Regions from separate parts of the Homo sapiens genome. Here all the other regions are linked to region 3. Evidence: fine-mapped expression QTL. A gene starts in region 3. Each other region holds a variant in brackets. All regions are shown on one strand. Distances are between the middles of the regions.

The links. PIP is the estimated chance that this variant, and not a neighbour inherited with it, causes the effect. A credible set is the group of variants that fine-mapping cannot tell apart.
Region 1: its variant is the best candidate, but not a certain one, in a credible set for the expression of PCSK6 in pancreatic islets (PISA, PIP 0.68).
Region 2: its variant is the best candidate, but not a certain one, in a credible set for the expression of PCSK6 in atrial appendage (GTEx, PIP 0.84).

What each region holds. Positions count from the first base shown.
Region 1 is chr15:101,522,323-101,532,391 of GRCh38, forward strand. It overlaps LOC124903567 (a long non-coding RNA gene), which reads right to left and starts at 6,052. Exons shown (of 2, transcript XR_007064784.1): 1 at 5,995-6,052; 2 at 4,443-5,538. RefSeq lists an enhancer at 7,997-8,655. The variant C/T (reference allele first, on the strand shown) is at 5,316.
Region 2 is chr15:101,445,572-101,455,640 of GRCh38, forward strand. The region is part of intron 1 of PCSK6 (proprotein convertase subtilisin/kexin type 6); the gene reads right to left. Among named protein-coding and RNA genes, the nearest start is that of PCSK6, 39 kb to the right of the region's middle. RefSeq lists enhancers at 5,443-6,176, 7,193-7,487. The variant A/G (reference allele first, on the strand shown) is at 5,535.
Region 3 is chr15:101,485,182-101,495,250 of GRCh38, forward strand. PCSK6 (proprotein convertase subtilisin/kexin type 6) reads right to left here and starts at 4,526. Exons shown (of 22, transcript NM_002570.5): 1 at 4,193-4,526. The coding sequence starts at 4,489. LOC124903566 reads right to left here and starts at 3,972. Exons shown (of 2, transcript XM_047433427.1): 1 at 1-3,972. LOC107987228 (a long non-coding RNA gene) reads left to right here and starts at 4,586. Exons shown (of 2, transcript XR_001751730.2): 1 at 4,586-5,143; 2 at 5,207-8,858.

The DNA of each region.
Region 1 (10,069 bases), 37 kb after region 3:
CAATTTCAGATCCAGCGACAATCCCAGCAGGCGGCCAGGGGAAGAAAAGCAAGGACGACAGCAAAGACAGACGGGTGCCCACAGGTTCCCTGTAGCTACCGCCACGGAGTGGGAACCCCAGCCAGGGCACAGACAGAGGCAGGGCCCCTGTGAAAAGGGGCAAGGACTCAACTTGCAGGGAAGCACTGCCTTGTGCTACCTTTGTTCACTAACGTGAAATGCTACTCTGAGTGTTCCTTATTTTTAAATCAAAAATTTAAAAACCACACACACACACAGAAACCTTTCCATCTATTGACATATTACATACAGCATCATATGAGTACAGTTCGACGAATTTTGACAAACCGAGCCCACCCCTGTAAATCGCACCCAGACCAAGACAGAAGACATCAGCAGCTCCCAGGAGGCGTCCCTGTGCCCCACTGCCATCAACACCTGCCCCCACGCCCACCCTCCAGGGCAACCACCATCTGAACATCCTTGTTTACACGTCTTCCCGGACTGGAATTGGAATCCCAGAAATCAAGTGGAGTAAATGAAGTGCAACTTTGTGCCAGTGTGTTTGAGTTGCGGCTGCTGGGCCTGCAGGTGACAAGGCGCTGCTTCCCCAGAGACCTCTTTCAGCATTCCCGTGGTATTAGGAGAAGGCACTGCAGCAGAGCAGAGAGAGGAGCAAGGCAGGGCTGGGGAAACTGCTCACATGGAGAGATGTGGGAGGCAGTGTCTCCACGAGATGTCAGGGCCCTGGAAGAAAGGAGACCCTGTTGGAGGGGCCAGGCAGGACGAGGGGACACTAAATACCAGTGGCAGCCATAGAATGATGTGTGTGAAGTGCCACCAGCCACAGGGCTCAGCCATGCAGCTGGGTGGGGTGGGGGTGTGTGAGAGGGTCCTGCTTAGATAGCAGCATCACCACCCCTAGGAGCTGGGCTTGGATCTGATGAGAGTCTGTTTCCTCCCCTAGATGATGAGCCGTTCCCAGGGCTGGCCACTGAGGATCTGGGTCACACAGGCCACTGTCCTCCCCACATGAAGTTTGCAGTCAAGTTAGAAAGATGACAGGTAATGAGGTCCACACCACACAGCTTTGGTGTGGCACGTGTCAACACATTCGCCGACAGAACCAGTGCATGAATGAAAGCTTGAGGGCACAGAGCACCTCTCCTGTCTTGCCTGAGGTGTCCCCAGGAGCAAGCCTGACAGCCAGCTGGGCCACCCTGTGAGACCGGGGCCCGCTGGAGCCTTTCCATGAGGAAGACTGAGCCGAGCGCCTGCACTAGGAGGAGCCACGGTACCGCCAGGCTCCTGGGCCCGCTGGGGGAGTGGGCTGCCAAGCACCCAGTGAGCTGCGGCTGAAACAATGATGACATTTTGTCATCTCTGTCAACACAACAAGAACTTGGGAGGCAGGCAGTCCCCCGCCATGCACAGTGCCCAGTACTGTCACCAGAGCCTCTCCTTTATCCTTCTCCTCTGTCCCATCAGCTGCTGGTGGCTCCTCCCTCCCTGGCAGTCACAACACAGCCACCTCGTTCTGTGCATCATGGCCTCAAACTGCTCCTCCCTGCTCATCAGGGAGGGAACAGCCAATGTTCCCTGTGTCTCATTGGCCATAAGGTCACCTGCCCTGCAGGGTGCTGAGACAGGGACTCTGGTCACAGGTGGCTGTTGGAACCCTCCCTCCTCAGAGCTTCGCAGGTCAAAGGGATGCGATTAGACTCTGTCAACACCTCTAAGAGCTCCACTGTGCGCAACAGAGAACGAGATTCCGTCTCAAAAGAAAAAAAAATCAATCTATCCACCATCATAACTTTAGTCAATATGCTTATTCCGTCACCTCTTCATTTGTCATCCTTCAACAGTATCTACTGATTCTGCACTATTAAAAAATGAGAATTTCCCTCATTTACCCTCCCCCACCTCCTCTCAGTCACGATTGTTAGTTTTCACATTCGTTAGATTCGCACCTGTCAATATAGACTTGGGCATTTACTGCTTTTCCATCCAGCTGAGACTGCTGAATCTTCAGCACACCGTGGAGGCCTCTGAAGCCCTGTCCTGTCCTCCGTCTCCCCTCCCCTCTTCCCCTTCTCTTCCTCCATCCCGTGGGTTTTTCTTTTGCAGCACCAAGGATGGCATCATATTCTGTTTGATGAGCATAATTAAGTTTTCTGTTCTTTGTTAAGTTTTATCTGTGTTGAAAACAAGTCAACGGCATTCGCGTTTTTACAACTTTGTAAGTACCATTCATAGCAGCCAAGTGGCTTCCTTCTCTGTGGTTGGTGGCTTTCCCGGGGCCACAGGAGAGAATGACTTCAGCGTCAAGGCTGAATGCATTCTGTCTCTCATAAACTTTCTTCTTGCTCAAAACCATAACGTGGCCGGGCGCGGTGGCTCACGCCTGTAATCCCAGCACTTTGGGAGGCCGAGGCGGGCGGATCATGAGGTCAGAAGATGGAGACCATCCTGGCTAACACGGTGAAACCCCGTCTCTACTAAAAACACAAAAAATTAGCCGGGCGTGGTGGCAGGTGCCTGTAGTTCCAGCTACTCAGGAGGCTGAGGCAGGAGAATTGCTTGAACCTGGGAGGTGGAGGTTGCAGTGAGCCAAGATCATGCCACTGCACTCCAGCCTGGGTGACAGAGCGAGACTCCGTCTCAAAACAGAAAACCATAACATATTTTTAGTTTTTTCATGATTAGACTGTGGCTTTCACAGACAACTTTTTGATATCCCCCCCATGTTTGATTTACCTTTCATTTTTCTCATGGACGAAGAATAACTGCCTCTTGATTGCGCTTCTCTGTCTTGCAATCTGTGCTGTTTATTTATCTGTGGACATAGCTTCTAACTTGTCACTCCATACTCCCATTTGTAACTGCCAGGGCTGGAAGCCTATGAACTATATTCCCAGCTTCTCCTGATGCAAGTTTCCGGCCAATGAGAGGCACTGGAGGCTGGAAGGCTGGATCATGGGAGAAAGCATGTCCCCTTCTCCAGCTCCGGGAGCAGCTGGCAGCTGAGAGTGACTGCAATCTGCAGATTGGTGGTGGGTGTCACAATAGTGGCGGAGCTGTTGATGTTTAGGCTCCGTAGCAGCGGCCAGAGGGTAACTCCTGGTTTCTGGATGAGGGGCAATCGTGCTCATGAGCTCTCGTAGCTTCACTTTCCATTTCATTCTCCAGTTCTATAGGGGGTCAGTGACCTCCTGTAGCTGCTGCTCTCTGAGTGCTATGGAATGAATGTTTGCGTCCTTCCAGATTTTTATGTCAAAGCCCTGCCCCCCAATGCAACTGTATTTGGAGACAAGGCCCTTAAAGGTAATTAAAGTTAAATGAGGCTGGATGTGGTGGCTCATGCCTGTAATCCTAGCACTTTATGAGGCCGAGGCAGAAGGATCACCTGAGGTCAGGGGTCTGAGACCAGCCTGGCCAACATGGCGAAACCCCGTTTCTACTAAAAATACTAAAATTAGCCAGTCATGCTGGCACATGCTTGTAATCCCAGCTACTCGGGAGGCTAAGGCAGGAGAATCGCTTGAATCCAGGAGGCCGAGGTTGCAGTGAGCCAAGATCACGCCACTGCACTGCAGCCTGGGTGACAGAGTGAGACTCCGTCTCAAAAAAAAAAAAAAAAAAAAAAATTAAATGAGGTTTAAGGATGGGGCCCAGTCTGGTAGTTTGTTCAATTTCTTTTCAAAAGAGCATTGTTTTTGTTTTTGTTTTTGTTTTTTGGCATGAGGTTGTAATCGCTGTGTGCCTGGGGTCGGGAGGCTGACTGACAAGGCAGCTTCCTCCACAGACTTCCAGCAACAGTCCTGCCCTGGCTGCGCTCCTCTCCCCCAGGCCTCCAGGCCACCAGCTTGCAGCCTGTGCTCCTCTGGGGAGGGATCCCCCGCTCCCCCACTCCCAGCCTCGCCCTGACAGTGATCCGAGTTGCGGATTTTGGCTTTCTCCTCCATCCTCACCCGTCCAATTGCCCTCCAGCTCACAGAATCATTTTCTCAAAATTTTCAACTGCTAATGACCCTGTCACCAGGCCACCTGGCAGGGAAGCCCACTTGTCCCCTACCAATAGGCCCATGGTGTCTTGGAGGCTTTCCTGGTCTCCTGGGACAAGACAGCTGCCCGGCTTGTAGCCAGGACTGTGCCTGTAGCCCACCTGCTGTAAGGTCACGCCTGCAGGCCCTGAGTTTTACCGGCAAGATCTAAGTCAGTTCTCTACCAACACCCTAAGGCAGGTACTACTACTTTCTCCGTTTAGAACTGGGGAGAGTGAGATGCAGAGAGCCCCTCCCCCGACCCTAGGCAGAGCCCGAGACTCGCCGCAGGCTCATGCACTGTGCCACCTGCCCTCCTGAGGCCACGCTCTTCTCACGGGAGGTGGCCCTGTGGCCTCACCTGGGCCGGATGGGAATTGCAAACTTGAAACCACTACGTCTTTTTCCCTGTTTTTATTTTAAAAAGGATATTAAACGAACATATCTTTTAAAAATTAAAGTGAATTGAAGTTCATTTTCATTTTATCCTGAGAGGTTCACAGTAGCTCTTGAAATAAATGAAAGTGACTTTAAACGGGCTTTGTTTTGAGGTGATCTCAGCAGCTCTGAGGATACGCACAGCAGTCTTGGAGTCTCACAAAACTCGGCTGGAAATCTCTGGCCCCAGAGGGAGGAAGATGCTTCTCTATTTCTACCTGAGGCCTTCCTTAGGCTCCTGGTCAGGAAGGGAGAAGAGACCCCGGGCAAGGGGTGAGAAGTGGGGGTGGGGGAGTCTTGCCCCTTCCTCTGGACGACAGAGCCCATTACTAGAGGGAATTTCAATGGTGTTTCCAACCCCAGGTCTCACCCAGGAAGGAGGAATCTAAACAAACTCAGCTGCCAGTGGCTCCCCCATAGCGACAGTTTGAGGCCGGATTCACTGAAGTTTTCACAGATGAGTCTAGGTAAAGTTGTGGGGGTTTTTGCTGTTGTTTTGTTTTGTTTTGTTTCTTTGAGACAGGGTCTCAGTCTGTCGCCCAGGCTGGAGTGCAGTTGAGTGATCTTGGCTCACTGCAGACTCCAACTCCTGGATTCAAGTGATTCTCCTGCCTCAGCCACCCAAGGTGTGAGCCACCATGCCCAGCTAATTTTTGTATTTTTAGTAGAGACAGGGTTTTGCCATGTTGCCCAGGCTGGCCTTGAACTCCTGAGCACAAGCGATCCGCCCACCTCAGCCTCACAAAGTGCTGGGATTACAGGCATGAGCCACCGTGCCCAGCCAAAGTTGTGGTTTTAAGCAGGATGTTCCAAAGTCCAGTGGTTATGACCAAA[C/T]GCCACACAGAGACAGAAGCCTCCCGCACAGCCCCAACTCCCAGCAGCCATGGTGTTCCAGGTCCTCCAAAGTCAGCTTCTCCTCCAGGAGGCCACTGAGCTCCCCAGCTGCGGGGCTGAGGCCACACAGCCCTGTGCGGTTCATCTGCCATCCGGGCCCTTCTTCCTCTTCTGAGCTTCACAGTTAGCCCAGGGAAGAAAACAGGCGTGTCTTCCACAAACCCTGAAGGGAATGGGAAGTGCCAACAGTGAGAAGGACTTAGATGTAAAGGATTTACACACGGTCACGGCATTTCCACAACCCTCTGGGCACCTGAGTACACGTGTGCAGACACACCCCCAGATGGGGGCGAGGGGTGGGGTGCCCCAGCTATTCACACCTAACCATGAGCGTGTGAGGCAGCAACACTTAAAGGCCACTTGCTTTCCGCAGCATCTCGATGGAGCAGGAGCCTGCCTGGGGCATCTCCAGGCAGCTTGGCTGAGCACCCAGGACTGAGTGCAACCCTCAGCGTTTACATTTTTTAGTACTATTCACTAAGAGAGAGAGAGACAGAGAGACAGTGATAGAGACAGGGAAGGACAGAGACAAAGAGAGCAATGGGTGAAGAAAGAGCAAGCAAGCAGGGATGTCGGACATTTCACACAACGCAGTCACCAGGGAGGCAAGAACACTTACAGAACAGTTTGAGCCAAAGAGTCACTCAGGGACAGGAACAGCAATTTCTTAAATATTTAAAGCAGACACCCTGTGAGCGGCTGTGGAGGCGGCTCTTTGTTAATATTTAACACGAGCTGGGCAGTTGCCGGGAAAACAGCTGTTTACAGGAGAGATTAACCAATATTCATCATTGCTCAAAGCTGTGGGGAGGCTTCAGGGGACAGGCAGCTGCCGGTATTTCTAGAATACAGCAGCTCAAGGCCACAGGGCTGGGGAGGCTCACGGTGTCCCCAGGGTGCATGAAAACTGTAAACAGGCAGTTCGGGGTCACCTACCCTGCTCCAGAATCACGGTTTGCAGGAAACCCAGCCCTGCAGCTGGGCCTGGGTGGTGGCTGCTGGCCGGCCAGCCAGCACCTCGCTGGACAGCTGCGTCCCACAGTCCCAGGCTGGGCTGTCCTTCAGGCCCATCCACAGTCCCAGGCAGACTCCTCGTGCACTCCCTGCATGAAGTCGGGGGCAGGTGCTCGAAAGTAGAGGGGTTCCCACTGATGGAAAGTGTCACCAGCCTGCCTGCGAATCCCCCAGCTCACACTTGGGCTTGCAGGGACACCAGCCAGGCCGTCTTGCAGAGAAGACAAGCTGCCTATTTTCAGGGGCTATGAGTCTTGTTCATGACAGTTTTCTCCTCTATGTGCCAAACATTCAAGAGCCTGGCCATTTTCACACAGCCCCATAGCCTGGGTGAATCAGGCCTCACTCCCCTGTACTTCCTTCCAAACATTCTATCACTCCCAACACCCTCCACCCAGGCCTCATGGAACTACACACAGATCACGCTTGGGCCCAACTGGATGCGGAATCCCAGCTCAGGACCAAGGAATGCTGCTGCTGTCTCCACAATGCCCTAGACCTGCAACCCTGGGCGCTTCCTGGCATACCACTGCCCACTCTGCCCACACCACAGCTGACTGACTCCTAATGGCTCTTCAAACAGTTGTTTGCACACCTGACCATTTATTATAAAGGAAGAAGCGCCGAACAGCACGTGCTGCTCTGAGGAATCTGTACAAGAATTGGGGCTCTGCGTATTAATCTTTGCTAAAATGAATTTAGTTTGGGTATTTAGGTTTCACAGCATAAATATATTTTTCTCTACTCTGAGACCAATTGGCACAGGCTGTCTAAGGCATTAGAAGAACAGTCCTTAATCTTTCTGTGTTCACAGCATAGTTCTGAATACCAGAAATCTAGAGGAATGCTTGAAGAGGTTTTTAAAAAATTAAACAACATTAAAGGAGTCAGCAATGATTTCCATCTCAGCAAAACAGGGGCCCTCAGGGTCCAGAAACATCCATGGCCATTGAGCAGTCACTTGGTCATTCTTGTGGATGCTTTTTTTGAGATGGAGTCTTGCTCTGCCACCCAGGCTGGAGTGCAGTGGCGTGATCTCGGCTCACTGCAACCCCTGCCTCCCAGGTTCAAGTGAGTCTCCCGCTTCAGCCTCCCAAGTAGCTGGGATTACAGGCATTAGCCACCACGCCTGGTTAATTTTTGTATGTTTAGTGGAGATGGGGTTTCACTATGTTGGCGAGGCTGGTCACGAACTCCTGACCTCAAGTGATCCACCCGCCTCGGCCTCCCGAAGTGCTGGGATTACGGGCGTGAGCCACCACGCCTGGCCTTCTGGATGCTTTTTATTTTGTGGTTATGCAGCATCAGGACAGCCTTTTAACATTTGAGAAGTGAACCGTCTTAGTGGGAGGCAAAACCCTGCTTCCCTCTACAGAAGCCTAAAAGGCCAAGAACGTGCACTCCCTGACACCGGTGGGGGGTAGCAGGGCTGTGCAGCCACATGCCCAGGAGGCACGGAGACTTCAGGGTCCGTCCCCCCATTCCCAGGTGGCAGAGCAGTGCCCCAGTGTCCTGGGTGCGAAGAGCAGTGGCTAGTGCATGCTCAGCACCAGCAGTGTCCTAGCCACATGTCTTGGGGCTATAGCTGTGGCCACTTGGCACCTCCAGGTTCCTGACCCTTCCCCACAGTGACTCAGCAGGGAGTTGTCTGTGAGCCACTTGATACCCTTTTACAATATTCCCTTTCTGATGATTAACCAGAAGTGCTTTGCAGGCGGGAAGCCTGGTGCGCACAGTCAGGGTCTGCCCTGTGCTGCTGCTTGAGGACTGTCTCCTGCCCTGACGGTGCTCTTCAAAGCTGCCGCGGGCCTGCTTGATGTAATGCTCACTTCTGACCTCTTTGCCCATGCAAGGCACACCCTGCCCTGCCGTCCCTCCCACCCCCTTCCTCCTTGGCATTCTGATGGACTCAGTGGTCCCCAAAATTGCACACATCAATTAAACCAGCAGCACACTCATGGAGGGCGGGTGGCGCCCTGGGTGCTGCTGTGTGCCAGCTGTCAATCACCGTGGGCTGGAATGTGGATTACAAGCCTGGAAGGGGTATCGCGCACTCAGGGTTTAGCCACAGTATACAAACGGCTTTTCCACCTTTCCTGTCCTGAAGGCCACAGCAGGGCCTGCTCTGCTCCCTGCGGCAGTGGTCCTCATGCTTGGCCAGGTGACTAGGCATACTCGCAGTTACTGCAGGGCCACTGTGTCCCCGGCTGAGCCTCGTGCCACAGAGAATTGGTCAGAGAAGAAGGCGGCTTAGAGAGGGTCCGGTTGGCCTGCAAGCCTGAGCCCCTGCCCAGGTGGAGATTAAATCCTTGTTACCTGATGGTATTGACGCTTAAAATTAAAACTGAGTTCAGTTACTGAAAATAGAGAAAGGGCCACTTCTATGCTCCTGAGATCGGAAGTGAGGTTTATCCCCCCGGGGATCTGAAGGATCATCCACTGGGCTTCCCTAAAGCGGCATTGTGTCATTTCTCCCGGCTAGGAGAGGTCTCCCCATTCTCAATTCCCGTCACTTATTCTCACTCAACAGAACCTCTCAGAGCACCTACCGTGTGCATGAGCCCAGTGTCGATGGGCCACGGGCCAGCCAGCCTGGGACGCGTGTCCAGGGCAGCTGGGATTTGGACTCTACTCCACGAGGCCACACAGGGGAAGGGGAAGCCCAGACGGCTGTCAGGGCATTCTTGGGAGCCGGGGGTTTGGAAGGGCTGTTGGGCGTGCTGGGGCACCGGCTAGGCTGTGGGGTGGTGACTCTCCTGCAGCCTTGGGGGGCTACCCTGAGATCATCTGTCACCCCACTGCTTGCTGCTCACTCCTGATCCCGCATTCTGGCTGTGGGCAGAGAGCACTGCCTGCCACATGCTGCGACCCGTGGCCCCTTCGCCAGTTTAATTTTCTTTTGTGCCCGTTCCCCCCTCAGCGTTCTAGTATTTTAATGTGTGTCCTTTTATTTGCTTGTGTCCCAGTATAAGACACACTATTCTATTTTGGTTTCTAAAATTATTTCTTTACTAGATTGAACCTTTTTAATTTTATTTTTATTGTGGTAAAATATATGTAACATAAAATTTACCATTTTAAATATTTTCATATGTACAGTTCAGTGGCATTAAGTATATTCACACTGTTGTACAACCGTCACTGCTATCCACCTTCAGAGCTTTTTCATCTTCTCAGTCTGAAACTTTGTTGCCATTAAACACTAACTCCTCATCCCACCTCTGCTCAACCCCTGAAAGCCATCTTCCTTCCTTTCTTTTTCTTTCCTTCTTTCTTTCTCTTTCTCTTTCTTTCTTTCTTTTTCTTTCGCCCTCCCTCCCTTCCTCCCTTCCTTCCTTCCTTCCTTCCCTTCCCTTCCCTTCCCTTCCCTTCCTTCCTTCCTTTCTCTTTCTTTCTTTCCTTTTTTTTGAGACGGAGTTTCGCTCTTGTTGCCCAGGCTGGAGTGCAATGGTGCGGTCTCAGCTCACTGCAACCTCCACCTCCTAGCTTCAAGCAATTCTCCTGCCTCAGCCTCCCAAGTAGCTGGGATTACAGGCACCCACCCCCAGGCCCAGCTAATTTTTGTATTCTTTTTAGTAGAGACGGGGTTTCACCATGTTGGTCAGGCTGGTCTCGAACTCCTGACCTCAGGTGATCCCCCGGCCTTGGCCTCCCGAAGTGCTGGGATTACAGGGGTGAGC
Region 2 (10,069 bases), 40 kb before region 3:
TTAACTGCCACACGTGTCAAAAGGCTCCTCCTCACCCGCACTAGAGCTGTTATTTAGCTACGGAGGCAATCACCGAGTCTCAACTTGCCGCAGTGTTTAATCAACATGTTTGCTCATAAGCTGCCATCATCCCTGGGAGACGTTACGTAACTTTTGGTCTTTTAACTCTGGGCATTCGAGTCAATTCCCAGTCAGGGACATGGAGGAACGAAGAGTTGAATAAAACTTGCTGGCAAAGAGACTAATTGCAGCAGTGCTGACCCTTAGCAGGCTCATGACAGGGGGGCCTGGAAGCCATTCAGGGCAGCACCTGGCCTTTGACCAGCTAAGCCAGGCTTGGGGAAGCCACCTTTCCCCTCAAAGGCCAGTCCCAAAGCCATCCAGCCCCCTGCCCCGGGGCCGCCATGACTGTCCTTTGCAAAGGCCCCTGGGTCTGGGCTGATGTCAACTGTTCTCCACGAACGATCCAGGAAAGGCACAGACAGTCCCCAGAATGCTGACCAGGCCAACCACCTCTGGAGGCAGCAGCGGCCAGAACTCCATCTGTTTGGACACTTATGTCCGGCCTAGCATGAGAGCTGGGGGGCCGGGGAGGGACGCTCCCACTGCAGGGGAGAAGGGGACACCAGCCAAGGCTGCCCTTGCAAAGCCAGCTGCAGAAGAAGCTGGAATCACACATTCGTCCTCTGTGACTGGCTTATGTCATTCAGCATAATGTGCTCATGTTTCATCAGTGTTGGACCATGTGTCAGAATTTCCTTCCTTTTTAAGGCTGACTAATCTTCCGTTATCTGCACATCTCACATTTTGTTTATTCATTCATCTATTTATGGACACGTGGATTACTCCCACTGCTTGGCTGCTGGGAATAATGCTGCTGTGTACAAATATCTGCTCGTGTCCCTGCTTTCAATTCTTTTGGGTATATATCCACCTACCGTTTTTTGATAAATTTTCTTGGAACATAGCCACACCCACCCTTTCCCTACTGTTCATGGCTGCCTTCCTACTACAATAGCAGAGCTGAGTGGTTGCAACAGAGACCCTAGAGCCCACGAGGATCAAAGAGTTCATATGTGAACTCTGAAACAGAAAAGGCTGCCAGCCTGTGATGTACAGCATTTGCTGCTGAGAGTATCAGGGGAGTTCACCAAAGTCTCTGATGTCAAGCAAGGGTTCTCTAGGGCTGGGAAGTGGCGGTCCATACACGGAGTGACTCAAACACAGGTGCGGCTGCAAGCCTAGACCTTCAGCATCTCATTGAGTCTCTGAGACGTGCTTTTTCCATAAACCTTGTCAGATGCTCCAAGAGGCCCCGTCCTTCTGTCTGACTCATGTGGTCCTGCCCTCTGCCCTCCCTTTGCAACATCAGGCACCAGGTCAGGAGTGTGAGGTTTTCATCACGGGCAAAACCAGTGAGAGAATCAAAGGTGACACAGCAGGAGGCAGGAGCAGCTGCCCAGGAACACAGGCCCATTGAAAGTCTCGTCGGCCCGGATGATGCTGCGTTTATGATACAGCCATTGCTGTCTCTCGTCCTCCCCACCCACCTAAGCCCTTCTAGGCTTCTCATCTGACCTACCACAGCAGGGTCCACCCCAGGTACGAGGAGGTTCTGCCCCTCCCCAGTGAGGGAGGCTGTTCCTTCACATCTCTGGGTGCCTTCATGGGGAAGGGGGACAGGATGCCAGGCTGTGAGGCCCCCAGGCTCACGCAGGGTCACCTGTGGGGATGTGGCCACTGGCCTGGTTGAACATGAAGGACACCTGGCTGCCCTCTGGCCCTGACTCACAGATTAGGGTGTGACAAGGACCCACAGAGATGTCCCCATTTCACAGATGAGTATACTGAGGCCCAGGGAGGTTAAGACTATGTCACACTGTGGGGCTCCCAGTTCCTAAACCAGCAGCCTCCCCATTCTGCTCACAGACAAGCAGGTGACAAAATTTGATACTAAATGACATACAGATACACGAGTAGGGTTTAAGATGACTGCCACACTTTTAGGACCTCTTCAGGGTCAAATGGACAGCGGTGGACTCAGGAAGGGGGCGGCCTAAAGACAAAATTCCAAATAATCTTCCAGGTAAAGTGAGGTTCTTTTTTTATGTGGCATTTGCCCTGATGGCAGGTGTTCCTCCCTGCTCAGCAGCCTGGACGTCCTGGGTGGCTGCTGCTTGGCTGTGGCCTCGGACGGTGTCCACACCAGGCGCTGGCTCTGCTCCCGTGCTCACAGCTCATCGACTACGCACCGCTTCTCCAGCCGGTGCCTGAGCAGCCCGCCTTTAGAATCAGGAGCGGTGGCTTCCACGGACTGCCGCTATCGGAGGGCCCTGGCAGCCTCCTCCTCCTTCCCTCGATTATAGAAGGGAGGCGCTGCCTCCACCATCCCAGGCTGCGTCCCAGTCCTGCTCAGCCCCGTGTCCTCCCCTGACCTCCATCTGCTCTTCATCAATGAATCTGACTGCTAGTCCACAAGGCATTGTCTTTGTAATGTCATAACATGAAATTTAAATACGTTCTTGTTCTCTTTGGTGCCCGTGGTATCTTCACAATGAATTAATTAGAGCCCGTCTCATGCACCATTCAAGAAAATAAACAATTTGCTGAATACAGGGTGCTCATGTTTCTTTACTCAACGTTGATAGGCGATTATATGCATTACTTGATCAAACTGATAACATCATTAGAACATCATTACAAACCTTGCTAAATGTTCTTGACCAGAACACTGGAAGGAATGAGATCAAAGAACTCACAGTGAAGAGAGTTTAATGTAGTGTAATCCTCTTTAACAAGATGCTCTGACATTTAAAAAAATATAGGTAATATGTGCACATGATACAAAACATGGAAGGTACAAAAGGGTACAGAGTTAGTGGGGAACAGCAATTCCCCCTCCTTCACCTGTCCCCCAGCCAGGGATCCTCACTATTACCGAGTGCCCCTGGCTCATTACAACAGCTGACGCTTGCTGGGCACATGCCCCATTCCAGGCAGCAAGCTTGGAGTTCAGATGAATTAATAAGCTTCATTTTCATAACAACTGTAGGGAGTAGATGTTATGACCATCCTCATCTGACTGATGGGGAAACTGAGGCACAGAGCAGTGAAACTGTTCAAGATTCATTTAGTCAATGAACAGTCAGGATTCTTCACCGTTGAACCTTCTGCCTCTCGGCATGGTTAAGATTGTTAGTTACCATGGGGAATTTCAGGCACCTTGGTCCTTGTCCTTTGCGGCAGGTTCTTTCCCAGAGAACCAGTACCCTCAGCATGTGTGCACTTTCCTTCATTTCAATAAGGAAATCATGGGAGGCCTATATTATGTTTCAGGTACATATTATTCCATTATGTCTGTATACGAGTGTGTGTGCATATGTGTGGATGTATAGAATGTGTGAGTGTTGTATACACGTGTATATACGTATGCCGGTGTGTGTGTGTGCATATGTATATGGATGTGCAAGTGTTTGTATACAGATGTATATATATGTATACAGTCATGCCTTGGCATCCGTGGGGGGCTGGTTCCAGGCCACCCTGCAGATGCCAAAATCCACAGATGCTCAAGTCCCTGATATAAAATGGCATCATATTTGCATACAACCTACACACATCCTCCAATACTTTAAATCATCTTTAGACTACTTATAATACCTAATACAATGTAAATGCTGTGGAAATAGTTGTTATACCATATTGTTTAAGGAAAAATGACAAGAAAATAGTTTCTACATCCACCATACATTTTTTTTTCATGTTTTTGACCTGAGGTTGGTTGAATGTGTAGATGTGGAACCCGTGGATAAAGACAGCCAACTGCATATGTATTCAGGCGTGTGTGTGTATCTGTGCATATACACGTGTATATACATATCCAGGTGTGTGTGTTTATGTAAGGTTCATAAACAAATGACTCTGAAACATACCAGGTAGGTCCTTGGTTTTCCCACAGTTCTCACATCCGAGTGAGCCTCCTGGGGCCACTGCTGGGTTGCCCTAACTCAGAACTCCAGATCTATGGCTCGCCACCTTCGTACATGTCAGCTTCACCTGAGTAGCTTGAGCAACCCCATGTGGGTGGGGGCTTGGCCCCAGATGGACGTTCTGGTTCCAGAGGTCTGAACAGCCACTGGGGAGGTGGGTTCTGAAATCCTCTGCGGGAGAAGCTGAGCTGTATCCAGGAACTGCATGAGATACCGAGAAGACAGGCCCAGAAGGCTGTTTCTTCATTTCCTGCCAACCAATCCTGGGTCCTTCCAGGCTCAGCTCAGCATCATCTCCTCTGGGGAGCCTCTCCCGCCTAAGGGGGTCCCAAGCACGTGGCCCCATAATGGCTGAGTCCTCCAGGGGCTGGGCCGGATCTGCACCATCTTTATCCACTGGCTCCTGGCAGGACCCCTAGGTCAGCACATAACTTCCACCACGCCAGAGCAGCATCAACAACACTGCACCCTCGCCATCCTGCACCCCAAACCTCTCCTCCTGAGGCGTTCCTTGTCTTGGTAAAAGCCACCACCAAACCTTCCCAAAGGGGGCTCTTAATGGCTCCCAAACCCGCTCCCCTCATCGCACCAGCCCTAGTGCAGGCAGCCCCACCCCTCTGCTTGGACCCTCGCTGGCCTCTTAGTCTCTCCCGTACCACCGCACTGACACTCCCACCCTGACTCCTCCTTGTCTCGGAGAATACACGACCAGCCAGGACCCCTCTCCAGCCACAGGCCTGGCCCTGCCCACACTGCCCTCTGTCATCCAGTGTAAGGGGCCCTGCCCTCACACACCGTTTCACACCCCTGTGCTCGCTCAAGTCCCCTCAACTCCTACTCTGCTTTTAACCATCCCCTCGGCTGTCACTGACTCCAGGAAGCCCTCTCAGGCCTCCCAGGCCCTGTATGCCCAGACATGGCTATGACACCCTTTGTCCTCCCTCCCTCCACCATAAGCCTTCAAGGGCAGGAGCTATGTTGTCTGTCAATTCTCAGGGCCTGGCTGTGTCTGGAACACAGAGGAGCTTGAAATCTGCCTGATGAAATGAACAGACTTCTGTCTCCAAATGACATTGGGAGGATACACAGGTCTCCCCCCATCCCATCTGTGTCCAGCTGTCCAGTGAGGCCCCGCATCCAGAGGTGGGGTGAGCATGCCCCCAGTGCCTTCTGGCCCGGGCTCTGCTGTCCTGTCTTTGAGCTCTCTCTCAGTCCCCGTCCCAGGACAGCTGTGAGGTCGGGAGGAGGCTATGGAGCCAGGCAGACCACCTCCCGGCTGTATGGTCTGGGCAAGACCCCCACTGGCCTCTCTGGTCTGAGGACTTGAGGCAGGCAAGGCCTGGCCGGGCACTCCCTTCCACTGGCCAGTGCCCTTCATTCATGGCACGCACCAGCCATGAGAAGAACTCTCGGGCGCAGGTGTGGACAAGCAGAAGCGGCTTGCAGGGCCACACAAGGGAGGGGTAGGAACCCTCACGAGGGGAAAGGCCTGGCTTGGGGTTTACAGAAAGGGCCTCCCCCATCATGTCGTTTCTTTAAATGTGA[A/G]TGTAGCTGGCTTCAAACAAAATCTCAGTGGGCGCTGCCAGCTCGGGTTCACTCTGCCAGAAAAGACTAAATGTTTTTTGAAGATCCTGAGGAATGGAGGAGGAAAGCCCAATCTACTTTACATGTTTAATTTGCAGCAAAGTCACCGAGAAGCACGCCGAATCTACCCCAAATGACATCAAATAGTTCCAAAGGTCCACCCGCCCACTCAGCTCTCCAATGGACGTGACTGCAGACACAGGTGCAGTTCGTAGCCCTCGAGCAGGCTGCGTTGTTGGTGGGGGTGGGTCGGCTAAGCGCATACTTTGGTAAGTCTGCAAAATCCCCACCCCACCTCCCCAGGCCAGCCCAGCCAAACCCTTCCACACGGGAACAGCTGATAAGCAGCCACAGAATGTCTCAATTCAAGGCCTCAGTGATGAATGGACTGCAGATGAGGCTTCTGACTTTGCAAAAAAAAACTGTACTTTATCACTCCCAAAGCCTGCCCTTGGCTGGAAACAGATGTTCCAAACCCCGTCCGCTCCGCAGCTGCAGCGTGCCTGCTTCCGGAGCCGCTTGTCTGTCTTCAGGGCCGGCATCTGCCGAGGGCCTTGGCTTTCTGGGAAGAGTCTATGTCTAAAAGTCATGGTCGTCCGAGTTCAGTTATATAATGTTATTGATCCCGGTTGGTTTGCTTAAGAAAAACACAACTAATTAGACTCTATAAAAACCTACACACCAAATTAATTCTGTATTGCTCTAGTGACTTCCGCCTGAAAAAAACGTTATAAATATAGATGACCACTGGACCTATATTTAGCCAGCACTGGATTACCTGGTATTTATAATTAAGGAAGTCCAGAAAGAGAGAGAGAGAATGGACATTTTGTTGTTATTTCTTAAAGCATTTTTTAAAAACTGCTTCCCATTTCAGTCACATATACACATAGCAACATTCTGTTATTGCAATAATTACAATCCTGACCCAAGTTAAGATGATTGCACAATTTCCCAGTCTCCTAAAATTACTTTCTTCAACACATATCCACCCAAACTATGCAATTAAGCTGTTCAACATCCTAAAAATTCCTGAGAAATCATTAATTCTTACTTAGCAAACTTCATTTTTCTCTTCCCTTAAGTCGCCAAACCAAATGGTCCGGCTTCGGATGAGAACGTTTAATTTCTACATGTGGTCTCGGCCTATATTTTCAAGGTCTACAAAAAGCTACCTGAAAAAACTACAATCCTGACTTTGAAGATCTCCATTTTAAATCATTTCCTGGTTGCAGGTTTCTTTACGGCTGTCTGGAATTAGTTGTTTTACCGGATTCCTAAATCCAATGCCTCTTGAGTATTCATTTTTGTTTTGTTTTGTTTTAATTTTAAGATAAGCTGTAAAACTCTTCTTTTTCCTGAAAAATTCCAGTCTAAAGTCATCATATGGGGAAGAACATGGTGTGTGTGGGGTGGGAAGATCCGGGGTGGCCCAGAACAAGGCACTGCTGCAACTCAGAAGGTGAGGAGGGCGCTCACATGGGGGAACGTGGAATCGAGCCCGTGGGGCTACGGGTGGGAACAGGCTACTCCAGATGTCAGTCCAGGCAGATAACCAGGCTGCCCACTCAGGGAAAGTGAAGACACAGGACATGGCAGATTGGTTACCCACAGAGCACAGATGGAACATGTTACTACATTAGGGGCCCTTACAACTGATAAAGACCGGTGGAATTCCCCGGTGTCCATGGCTGTGCTGCACGGCTCTGCAGACACAGTCCTTGTTTATGCAAAGGACACACTGGAGCACTGGGGCTGGCGGGGCCGGGGTCACCAGGTTCTCTGCGCTGGGTCAGTTGAGCTTTGCCCTGTGCATTCAATTTTTCTGTAAGTTTGTGATTGTTTCAAAAAATTGTAAAAGAAATTTTTAATTGTAATAAAACAAGGTAACCAGACCTTTTAGCCCCTTTCCCAAATAAAGCTTAAAGAATGTATGGTCTAAACTGAAGACAAAACTCTTTCTCTAACCCCATGCTGAGAAGCGGCGACAGACTGCTTCTCAGAGCTGCCCCATTCCTTCCTCCCATCAAAGGAGGGCCCGTGGGATCCAGGAATTATTTTGTAAAAGAGACAGAAAATGAGGTGTATTTCAAGGGCAGGTGACCTCTGGGGTAGGGAGGCTGCTTGAGGCCTGGCCCTGCCCCATGTGCCCAGGGCCCATACCTCACCCCCAGGCAGAGCACACGCCCCTGCTCCCCGCAGGCTGCCCCTGTGCAGCTGATGTGTTAGTGGGAATGGATTTGAGCCACATCTCCCTGCTGCTCGCTAACTTCCCTGTGCCATGTTTGGCCTCTCTAGTTGGGTGAGGTACCCCCGATGCCCACAGGGCCCAGCCTGGGACCCCATGTCAGGGAGGAGGTGAGCCTGCGGAGGCTCCAGGAACCCAGAACTGCGAGATCTCCTGAACTCTTCCAGAGAAGCCAGCATTTGGATCCGACATGCGCTCTCCCGAGTTTTTAATAATGGCAACTCATTGTACATGTTACCACCACTGTGTAGCCTGCCTAACACATGCCTGCAGGCTACAGGCAGCCTGTCGCCTGGAAAGTGGGGATCGAGACATTTGGTTGAGACTTTCCCAACTTGAGGAGGCCCACTGTTTACTTTTTTCTTTCTGAGTATGCGAGAAGTAGGGGGTGCCTTATCCTCAAGAAAGTCTCATCTAGAGAATTTGCCAGGGGAGAGAGGCTCCGGTACGAGTCCAGGTCTACTCTCAGCATAGGGCAGCTCTGCTCGTGAAGAGTGGACTGTGTCTGTGACCTTGAGCACCAAAGGCTGTGCACAGCACACCTGGGCACGCTGCTTACATCATGGATCAGAGAACAAACTACACTGAGCACCCAAGGCAGTCAGGGGGAGCCCGTCTGGCTCCTGCCAGGCCCCCTCCTGGACTCCCCAGAAAGAAGGGTCAGTGCTGGGCTGCAGCTCATGGCTACTTGGCCAAGGGAGGTCATGTTGGAGGAGGCTACAAGGTTTTTAAAAATAAGATTTTGTCTTTATGAAAGACATGTTGGAAATTCACATTTTAATACCTAAAACACCATCACTTGAGAGCAAGTTATCCCAAGGGAAATCAAAAGGAATTCTAGAAAAATTAATCTTCAAATTTTCACTTAAAAATATATACCTCCTGTACCCGAAGATGTGAAAACGGGGTTCTGAACAAATATCTGCATACCCGTGTTCACAGCAGCATTTTCCACAAAAGCCAAGGGGTGGGAGCAACCCAGGTGTCTGTGGCTGGTTGAGTGGATCGACAAAACCTGGCAGGGACACACGATGGAATATGGCTCAGCCTGAAAAAGGGAGGAAACTCTGATGCATGCTACAACACAGATGAGCCTGGAGGACGCTGTGCTCAGTGAAATGAGCCAGGCACTAAGGACGAATACTGAACGATTCTCCCTGTATGCGGTACCTGGAATGGCCAAATTCATAGAGACAGAATGTGGTTGCCAGGGGCTGTGGGGGAGGGAGGAGTGGGGAGTTGGTGTGTAAAGGGTACAGAGTTTCAGGCCAGGCACAGTGGCTTCTGCCTGTAATTCCAGCACTTTGGGAGGCCGAGGCAGGTGGACAGATCACATGAGGTCAGGAGTTAGAGACCAGCCTGGCCAACAGCGTGAAACCCCGCCTCTACCAAAAATACAAAAATTAGCCGGGTATGGTGGCGTGCACCTGTAATCCCAGCTATTTGGGAGGCTGAGGCAGGAGAATCGCTTGAACCCAGGAGGCGGAGGTTGCAGTGAGCCAAGATCACACCACTGCAGTCCAGCCTGGGCAACAGAGTGAGACTCCATCTCAAAAAATGAATGAATGAATGAATGAATGAATGAATGAATAAATAAATAAATAAAAGGGTACAGAGTTTCAGTCTGAGAAAATAAAAAAGTTCTGGAGATGGACAGTGGTGATGGTTGCATAACAACGTGAAAATACTAAATGCCCCAAACTATACACTTACAAACAGGTAAGATGATATATTTTCTATTATGTGTATTTGACCACAGCAAACAAACAAACAAACAAAAAACTCTCCTCTGCATTCTGTCCCCACCTTTCCCACCTCTCTTGTGTCACTCAGGATGCTGGGACTATGGCTCCAGTGTACCAGCAGCATCTGGAGGCCTGAGAGGGAGAAGGCATAGCCGACCCCAAGGCACAGCCAAGCACGGCAGTGCTGCCCAGCTGTTATTATTAACAGCTCTTAGCTCCGGAAAGCGCTTCCCATCCTTGGCCCCTCTCTATTGTGTGGTTTCCCTTAAAGGGAACAAGGACACAGGAAGGAGGTGGCAATCATCTCAGGGACGGCCAGAGTCACCTGACCGGGACTGACAGTCATGGGTGGTGAGAGTGTCAGCCAAACACCATGCAAGCTCAGCTTCCTTTTATCCTGGAGCCTATCCCAAATGATGGCTTCAAAGGCCTGCTGACCAGGTGGCACAGTGACCAAGCTCCTATGCTGCTGGCCTTGTGACAGCTTGCCCTGCTGAGGTCGG
Region 3 (10,069 bases):
AGCGAACTTGAGTGAAGCTGGGCATCATTTCTTATGTTTACTGGTCATTTGGATTTCTCTTCATTGACTTCTCCATTCATAAACTTCCCCATTTTTCTACCTGGCGTGTATCTTTTTTTCTTAGTGATTTATAGTTTTCAAAATAATCTGTGTACTAATGTATTTGTTATATATTGTAAATACTTTCCTGGTCTATTCTTGCTTTTTAACTCTGTTAGGATGCCTTTGTTTACATAGAATTTTTATCTTAATGTATCAGTCTCTTCATTTTGAAATTTATTTTCATAACTTGTGTAGGGACTCCTTTCCCGGTGTGACAAAGGTATTCCACTGCAGCTCTTTCTAAAGTTTTATATACAGTCTTTAATCCCATCTGGAATGTACTGTTGTGTAATGTGAGGATCTAATTGTTTTTCCATGGGGAGAGCCTGTTCTCCCAGCACCATTTAGTAAATAGCCCATCCTTCCCCATCTATTTGTAACTCTTCAGCTCACACATACAAGTTCCCACACATGCTTGGGTTTGAGTTGACTCTACTGCTGGACTGTCGTTACCACAACTCCCCTCCTCCTCTTCTTTCCCAGAGTTGTCTGAGGTATTCCTGGACCTTACTCTTCCATATGAATTTTATAATTCATTTGTGTGATTTCATATTCCACATTAAATCTTGTCACAGCTTAAACTAGATTACATTGAATTTGCAGATTAAATTGGGGCAACTATGAGAGCCAGCCCTCCCATGCATGAACACAACGCATCTCTCCATTTATTTAAATTTTTTTTTTTTTTTTTTTTTTTGAGACGGAGTTTCACTCTTGTCGCCCAGGCTGGAGTGCAATGGTGCGGTCTCGGTTCACTGCAACCTCCGCCTCCCAGGTTCAAGCTATTTTCCTGCCTCAACCTCCCAAGTAGCTGGGATTACCGGCATGTGTCACCAAGCCCAGCTAATTTTTGTATTTTTAGTAGAGACAGGGTTTCTCCATGTTGGTCTGGCTGGTCTCGAACTCCTGACCTCAGGTGATCCGCCTGCCTCAGCCTCCCAAAGTGCTGGGATGAGCCACCATGCCCAGCCTAAACTTTCTTTTCTCAGTCCTTCTTCTAAATATTTTATGTTTCTCTATAAAAGTCTCACCTTTTTAAAAGACCTATTTCAACGTATCTAACAGCTTTTATGCAAGAATGAAGAATGGTTTCTTTCGTCTTCTCAGATGTGCTGCCATGCAGGTGGCTGTTGCTGATCAACTCCCTTATTAGCTCCAGGGGTTAATCTCCAGGCTCTTTTGGATTATCCATGTAGTTATGTCATCTGCCGATAATGACATTGGACACTTCCACATTTTTATTCCCTTTGAAATCCTGTGGTGTTACCTGGACTGATGAGTAGAGGGACAAAGAGAGGCTGTCTTGTCTTGTCCCTGGTGATGCATATTTTACAATGGAGAGGATCCACAGCCTTTATCAGGTGCTGAAAGGGAGCCATGACACAAGAAAGGTGAATAACCACCAGTCTAAATTACCTCTGGGCCATGTGAAATAAACTGAATCCAGTTATTAGTTGTATGGAAGAAAGTAAAACAAGCAAGAACCTTGAGCACAGCGACTATCTGGGAGAAAACCAGGGCTGCGATTCAGGCAAGTACAGAACATAACACTAATTGCCCATTAAGGGCTTGGAGAAAGAGTTTCACAAAGGAGACCTCAGAACAGAGAATACGGCAGAAGCAAATGAGCAGGGATGGAACTGTCAGAGGTGACATATGCGTACCATGTGAACACAAACAGCTTCCTTCCCTTACTTCACCCCCATTTACTCATCTGTAAGTCAAAGCTAATAATATCTACATCTTATTTATGAGTCACAAATTCTCCTGGCTGAAAAAAAGGCAAATAAGGTTTTCAAAGAGTTCTTATTGAGTGGGTAGAGGCTCAAATGCTCCAGGCCTTTTCCACATTAGCAGTGCACTTAGAGGGGGGAAAGAAAAGCTCGTTTTGGAATAAAGAGTAATAGGCCCTCCGTGAGTAATCACACACAAGCCTCTGAGACAGCTCCTATCCCCAACCAGCTAATCTCTGTTAGTGAATGTCACCGCAGTGCCACTGCCAGCACCATGCCTGAGTGACCGGGCTGCGTGGCATTCATGCTGGCTGCACTAGACAGAGCTGGGGAGACCCCGATTAACTCCCCAGAATATCCTGGGTACGGAGTGTGCATCGGGGCGAATCTTCTCTCCCATCCGCAAAACCAGGAGAGCAGACTGCACTAAGAACTCAGTGAGCCTGACAGAGGTTGTCTCAAAGGGGCGGCATGGCCAAGGGTTAGGCATTTTTATTCCCACAGATAGAAATTTCCGGGGAGAGTTACCTGTGCCTCTCTGCCTCTCTCTTGCAGTGTGAGCTCACAGCTCAATTTCAGCTCCATTCTGCTCATTTAATTTTAGAATCCCAAAACCCAGGCACTTTGTAATTTATCGCGTAGTTTAAGAGTCACTTTTAGCTGAAGACAAATTGCTGGGCCACCTGGGCACAGCAGCGAAGTGTGGCAGGAGCCAGGGGCACTACGCAAACATGAGGAACACCTTCTTCAGCCTGGACAATCAGCCAGGGAGAGTCAAGAACTACAGAGACAAACGAAGTCAGTGCTACCCGACGGCAAAATCTGAAATCACAGGATGTTTGGAGGGCCTTGAGTGGTTAAAAAAACTAAATATCTATATGGATATACATGTGCGTATATGTATGTGTGTATATGTGTATATATGTAACATTTTATATATATATATGCATATATTTAAAAGGTCTCCAAAGATGTGCTAGCATTCTTTCAGTAAACTCGAACCTGCCTTGTGAAGATTCCTTCATTCGAATGGTGGAATCCACCCCTCCAGCCACACACCTAATAGTACATCAACGTGGGGCTTGGGATGCAGAACTAATGTCATTTCTATCAATCAGGGACGCCACCACACCTTGCTGGCTTCTGCCACGGATAACGATGAAACTACATTTAACACTGCCTGGCACTAAGGTTTAGAGTTATGAGTCGGTGCTTCCCTGTCACTTCACTTAACCCTCTGAGTGTGTAGTTTGTAGATTTGTTAACTGCACTGAGAGGTCCCCTGGTGTGACCTCAAAATAACGGCCTCTCCAGGAGCCATAAACATGGATCAACCCCAACTCACCGCCCCTCAGCCCGGTAGCTGGTTGAGAGAGGAAAAAGGGACCCGCCGGGAGGTCCTTTGAGGGTAATGCCGCCTTTGTGCCCAGGGCGTGGCCTGCTTGCTCACTGACAGAAGAGGGGACAGCCGAGGGCTGCGGGGCTGGGAGGGCCCCGTGGGGGCCGGTGAGGGTCAGGCCCCGGTCCAGGCTCTGTGGCAACGCAGCATTAGATCTTTCCGACAACCCAGCGGTGTAGACATTGCCACTGACTGCAAAGGAGCTTGTCAGGGGAGCGACTTGCCAAAGGTCACACCGCTCGGCCATCAGAACCGCGGCAGAAGCCCCCACACAAAGCGCCCTCCCTCCGCTCCTGGAGAGGTTTTAAACCCAGGACCCCCGGCCCTGCGCTGTCCCAAGGCCTCTCCGACGGCGGCCGGGCTCCAGGGTGCAGGCTCCCGGCCATCTACCCCCGGGAGCCGCGGACACCGAGGGAGCGCGAGTCCCCGAGACGCCGGGCCACGCTCATGTCACCCAAGCAGCGGCCGCGGCCGCCTTGGCGCGCGCACCGGGTCCGGAGCTCGCGCCGCCCGTCGAGGGCAGAGGGGCCGCTCCCCCGCGGGGGAGAGCCGGGTGGGCGCCCAGGACCCAGCGGCGGACGGCGCGCGACGCCTGAGGCAGCCCAGACTCCCCCGGAGCCCGGCAGGTGTCCGCGCCGCCCCGGCTTCTGAGGCCACACTTCCGAGCGCGGGGTTGGGCGGCACTGCCGGGGGACTTGCGGTCGGCGCGCCGGACCTGCGTGGGCGCCCACGCGGGACCCCAGTCCCCCCCACCCCGCCGAGTGTCCCGCGCGCGCCCCCCCGGGCGACACCCCCCCCCGCAGGGCGCCCCGGCCGCCCGCCGTCCCCAAGCGGTCCCGGAGCCTTCCCACGCGCGCGCGGGGCCGGGGCCGGGCGGACAGGACTGCGGAGGCGCCCCCCTCGCGCGCGCCGGAGGCCGCCGGGAAAGTTTTGGGCGCGCGGGGCCGGCCGCACTCACCTGGCCCAAGTTGAGGTACCCGTGCGCCGCCGCCACGCGGTCCGCCTCGGCCGGGCCGCCCAGCACTTGCACCGCCCAGTGGTTGGTGTAGACGGGGCGCGGCGGGGGCGCGGAGCAGGCGGCAGGCAGCGCCAGCAGCAGCAGCCAGCGCCAGGGACGCGGCGCGAGCGGCCGGAACCCGGGCCCGCCGGCGCCCCCCGCGCCCCCCGCGCCCCCCGCGCCCGCGGCGGTGTCGGTGGCGGCGGCGGCCCGGGGCGGCGGCCGGGGCCCGGGCGCAGGCGGCGCGCGCGGAGGCATAGCGGCGACAGGCTCGCGCGGCGCCCGAGCTGCGAGTGCGCCGGGGGGTGGAGTGCCGCCTTTTAAAGCCGCTCCGCGCCGGGGAAGCGCCGCCGCCGCCGCCACCGCCGCCGCCAACACCGCCGCGGGCGGGAGCCGGGGAGGAGGAGGCGGCCGCGGCGCGTTCCCGCCCCCGGGCCCGCGCTCCTGCGACCGGGCTCCGGGGCCGAGAGCCGTCCGGGAGGCCCGAAACGCCCCCCACCGGGGGAACTTCCCCGCCGACTTCTGGGGCTCTCGGGACGCGGTGCCGCCCCAGAGGCGTCCTCGGCCCGCGAGTTCTGCTGGGAGCGGGGAGGCCCCGGCGTCTCAGGTGAGTCCCCGGTTCCCTAGACCGGCCGGACACCCGAAGGCCGCACTCACCTGGCGGGGGCCTCAGACGCCTGGCGGCCTCGCCCGCCTCCCTAGACGGAGGGCTCGCCCGTGTGCGGGGTCCCAGGGAGAAGAAGCTGCGGGGAAGACAGTGGGTCGCCCGGGACCAAGCCTGGCTGAAGGGACACATTGAGCGGGGCAAAGGCATGTGGCGCATCAGCCGGGCTCACGAGCGTGTACCCGAGAAACCACCGCACGGAGCCCATGGCGGAGGCCGCGGCCCATGCTGGGAGGCAGGCCGTGCAGGTGAACCCCCAGGCCGCGCAGGTGAACCCCCAGGCCGCGCAGGTGAACCCCCAGGCCGTGCAGGTGAACCCCCAGGCCGCGCAGGTGAACCCCCAGGCCGTGCAGGTGAACCCCCAGGCCGTCCGCTTAGCCTCGCTGCGATCTTGGGCAAATGACTGTGGTGGCTGAGGGCAGGCGCCCCACCTGCAAAATGCGGGGAACAGTGGCATCTACCCCGTCGGGCTGATTTGAGGATGAGGTCAGCTTTTGCTGTACAATAAGCTGTCCGTAAACGTTCGTTTTTATGAGCCCAGGGCCTGCCGTGTGGTAGGTGTTCACTAGACGATGTACACTCTTAAAAGCACCCACTGAGCTGGGACCAGCAGTAGAAAGTCAGCTGAATCATCCTCACCCCTGCTTCCTGGAGCAGCCTGGTATCCAGTGGATAATGATTTGAAGCACCCTGGAGATGGATGGAAATGTTCACACCATAATCAAGGAATTATGAAGGGTAAGGATCGCTGCTGGATCTCTTCTGTCATCCCTCCCAGGACCCATTGGTCCTACTGGCCCACTTCCAGAAAGCAAGCCATCAACCTGCTTAATATAGGAAGTAAAACAAAAAGGTCGAGAAGGCCTTGAGGTGGGAAGGAAGCTGCTTCTCTGATGGTCAGTTCCAGGAGCGGTCTCTTGTTGAGCGTGCAGGATTCACTTGGAGTCTGTGGCTTGGCAGCTGGAGGTGAGAGGCTGGGGCGAGAGGGGATGGGCTGAGGACAGGATCTGCATAGATGGTTTCCGAGGTCCTTTCCAGCCTCGCTCTCAGGAGCCCTTTGGTTTTGTAACCCACGTGATTCATCATTTCTTCAGGTGTGAGTCACCCCTAATGGAGGTGGGAGAACAGGAGGCGTGGTGGGAGGCCCCATCCCAACAGGCCACATCCATGTTCACAAGGGCTCCTGCCAAGGGCCCATCTTGGAACCTGGAGATCAACGTCCCACATGGCCTTCGCTTTGCTACACTAGATGTAACTTCACCTCCCTGCGTTCCCCTGGCAAGTGGGGTCAGCTGCTTGGGCCGTCACTCCAGGCCTGCCCACACTGCAGAAGACAGCCACCGTGTGTCCCTCCTACAGATGGACTGGATGCTCACCAGCCCCTGCCAGTGGAGAGACATGAGGCCCTCATGCAAACTGGCAGCCCTAGAGGAGAACCGGCCATACTTGTTGGACAGAAACAGTACCCAGAACTCTCAGTCTGCCTCTGCCTGACATGGCCCTGGCTGCCTAGCCAACTGGCTTGCAGAAGAGGGACATTGGCCTGAGTCAAGGGGACGGGGTTGGAGGCATTGCATTGTCACCTAGCAGCAGTATGTCTGGGCAGCATGTGTTACCTCTCTTCCCCTTCCCCTGCTGGCCGGATGTCCCTCAGATTCATCCTGGATCTGGTGCCGTTCTTCAAATATGTGGCCTGCTTCAAGATAATGTAACTGCACATCAGCTAAATGATTATAAAGCAGCTGGTGCCTCCCAAGACGGAGCCCCCGCAACGGCAGTGATTTTGACAGGCAGAGATAAGGGTGTTTCCATAATAATGTGGTAGATTAAGGGATTCAGCCTGCTGTACTGAGGGGAGACTAAAATGCATCTGAATTTTTATTTGGAGAGATCTGAATGTATTTTACTAACAAGTCTGGTCCTTTTGGGCTGAACTTTCCATTTGTCATGGAAGTGCCCGGCAATATCTTGACTCCGATGTTGTAGGAAGACCAGCTTCCCAAAATGAACATCCTGAATCGAATCGCCTCCTGTGGGTTTCCTATTGATTCACACGGTGACGGGATTAGCTCAGTCACGGGAGTACCAGCCCTTTTCATTGTGATAGGATCTGTAATAAAACTTGGCTAGTCGTCCTGCAGGGAGGGGATTTATTACTCAGGCTCTGGCTCTCCACATGGCCCCCGAGGTCCACACAGCTCTGTGGGGAGGGAGGGGGTGCTGCTTTCCTAGATTGAGGTCTTCGAGCCTCAGGAGGGACAGGACATGGACCAGAAAGGTGATTGGAGCCTGGTCATATTTCGGAAGTTTTGTGATATTTATACTGACATCTTCTAAAATCAGAAAAGAGGAGAAGACATTGAATGATGTGTTCTCATGCCCACCACTGATCCCTTTACAGCAAGCATGGGATTATCCGGCCAGAGTCCGGGAATACCCACGCAGCCAAGACCACAGGACAGCAAGAGCCTTTGCACAGCCTTCTAGGATGTGATAAGACATACTTTGATGCAGAAATTGCCTCTGTGTAGGGAATAGACACTTTATTGAACAATTACATTTTTGGCAATATGCTAGGTTCAGCAGGCCAGACTAGCATCCCTTGAAAAATAGCTGATGGACACCACCTTCAGGATACCGGAGATGAGCGTGGACTCAAAGCCCAGCTTTGTCATTTACTCATGTGCAGCCTCAGTAAAGTTGCTTCAGTTTGCCCTACTGAAAATAATAGTAACGCTGCTGTCCCCATACAGAGGGGCTATGAGGATGACAGGAGCTGATGTGAGCAGAGCCTGGCACCCAGAGCCTGGCATGAAGTCAGCACTCCATAAATAGTGGCAACAGTGACCACTGCTGACCAGGCGCTCTCCAGTGGGATAGAGTAGTTAGGGCTGAATACTCTGACCTTCTCTGGATAAGGGCTCACTGTCCTCATCTATGCCTGGGTGCACATTTTCTCACATCTTAACATCCCCAAATCAAGAAACATCTCACAGTTGGTGTTTTGCAATCATCACTGGCCTGGACTGAAATTGAGTTCTTCCAGAGAGGGTTTGTTTTTGCTTCTGCCAGTGATCTGGGGACACAGCTCCTGAAACTCCTTGGGGATCTGCTGAATGGTGTGACCCCAGTGTGAGAACCAGCTTATGGTTCTAATGATCAGTGCAGGGCATCTCCCTATTTCTCCCTCCCCTCGCCAGGGCCAAGATAGAAACCTGATGATTCCTTGCTGTTCCTCTCCATGGTGGGTTTATTTCTCATTTTCCCCTGTACTGACAGTAGAGTCTTTATTTTCCCTCCCCTCCCCTCTCTCTCCTCTCCTCCTCCTCCTTCTCTCTCTTCCTTCCCTCCTTTCTTTCTCTTTCTTTCTTTCTCTTTCTCCTTTCCCTTCCCTTCCCTTCCCTTCTTTTCTCTTTCTTTTTCTTTTTCTTCTTCTTTCCTGAGATGGAGTTTCACTCTTGTCACCCAGGCTGGAGTGCAATGGTGCAATCTCGGCTCACTGCAACCTCTGGCGTCCGGGTTCAAGTGATTCTCTTGTCTCAACCTCCCGAGTAGCTGGGATTACAGGTGCAAGCCACCATGCCTGGCTAATTTTTGTATTTTTAGTAGAGATGGGGTTTCACCATGATAGCCAGGCTGGTCTCGAACTCCTGACCTCAGGTGATCCACCTGCCTCAGCCTCCCAAAGTGCTGAGATTACAGGCGTGAGCCACCAGGCCCAGCCAACAGTAGAGCCTTTCATTGTTCCATCTTTAGAGAGGCATCTCCTGTGAGCCTTTCATTGTTCCATCTTTAGAGAGGCATCTCCTGTGAGACTTTCCATCTTGGATGTTTTTTTTTTCTTAGTAATATGTTAAATAATGACACATCTTCCAATTGAGGGTGTATCTTAGATTTGATGACATATGATATTAATGCCTTCAAGACATATTGCAGTAAAGAAACTTGTTGAATTCTTCCAAATATATTTGCTGTGTCTGTGTATGTGTGAGTGTGGCATCTATTGATATCCTACAGAAAAGGTACAGAGAGTACAGCATTTTTCATGAAAATCTGTTGTGAATCCTCAGCAAGGTAAAGGCTTTTTCAAAGTAATTGCCTGGCTCAGTTGAATTTTCAAATACATTTCTATCGGGAGAATCCTCGGATACTTTGGGCCAGACAGCACTCAGAGGTGAGATACTGTTGGGACGTACAGTCATTCCTTAGACCTGACAGTGCTTCTTGAGCCCAGATAAACACCCAAGGTCCCCAGGAACAGGAGGTGTGATGCAGGTCGCACACAGCCAGTGGGCCTGAGACATGGAGAATCCGGGGCAGACTACACCTCTGCCTCCCACCAGCCCCTCCCACCGTCCCCAACAAACCTTTACCCAAGCCCAGGTTTCTACAAACCGGGGATTTCCCCAGCCAGGTCCTCTTCTCTCCCTTTCACGCTTTTCTTTTCTCTCCTTTTTACTCACTCCAAATCCCACTCACAGCTGCTGCCCATAGCAGTGGTGGGTCAGGGGCCTTTGCTCCCCTGCAGCTTCAGGCTCTGCGTCCTTCTGGGCTCTGCCTTCTGCTCGGTGTACACAGTTTTTCAGCGGTCTCTTCAGTATCTGCTCATTCATACTGAGCTCTACTCCCTGCTGGGGTGGGGGGACATGTGACTATCGGGGGTGGGGAGGGCATGGAGCAGCTCCCACTCTACTCTCCTCTCTGCTTAAACTCTCTTTATATCTAGATCCTAGTTTTCTTAAGAAAGAGCCCTTGAAAACTGCTTCTCCTGTGAAACGATTACCGTGGGTCTAGCAGTTATGTATCCCAGTGTTCCTTTCCTAAACTCCCATGTGGAAATTTAGTGTCAAACAGGGAATTTAGGGGCAAAAAAGCTGAAACTCCCTGAGAAGCTCTTCCTGACTAAGAATGAGAGCTTGGCAATTCATCTCGTTTCCCTTTTCACCTCAGCATCCAGGAGGCTCAGAGCCACATGTGATAGAAAAATTGTAGTTCTTTATTTCTTCTTTGTTGCAATAGGTAAGATGCCTTTGGTTACAAAATATGAGAGTGCCCAACTGAAATGAGTGCAGACAATAAGGACAATTCATTATTTTGCAAACAAGAAACTGGTATTAGTGGACCCAGGGTTGTTAATTCAGCAGCTCAGTGATGCTGGGACTCAAGGTAGCTTT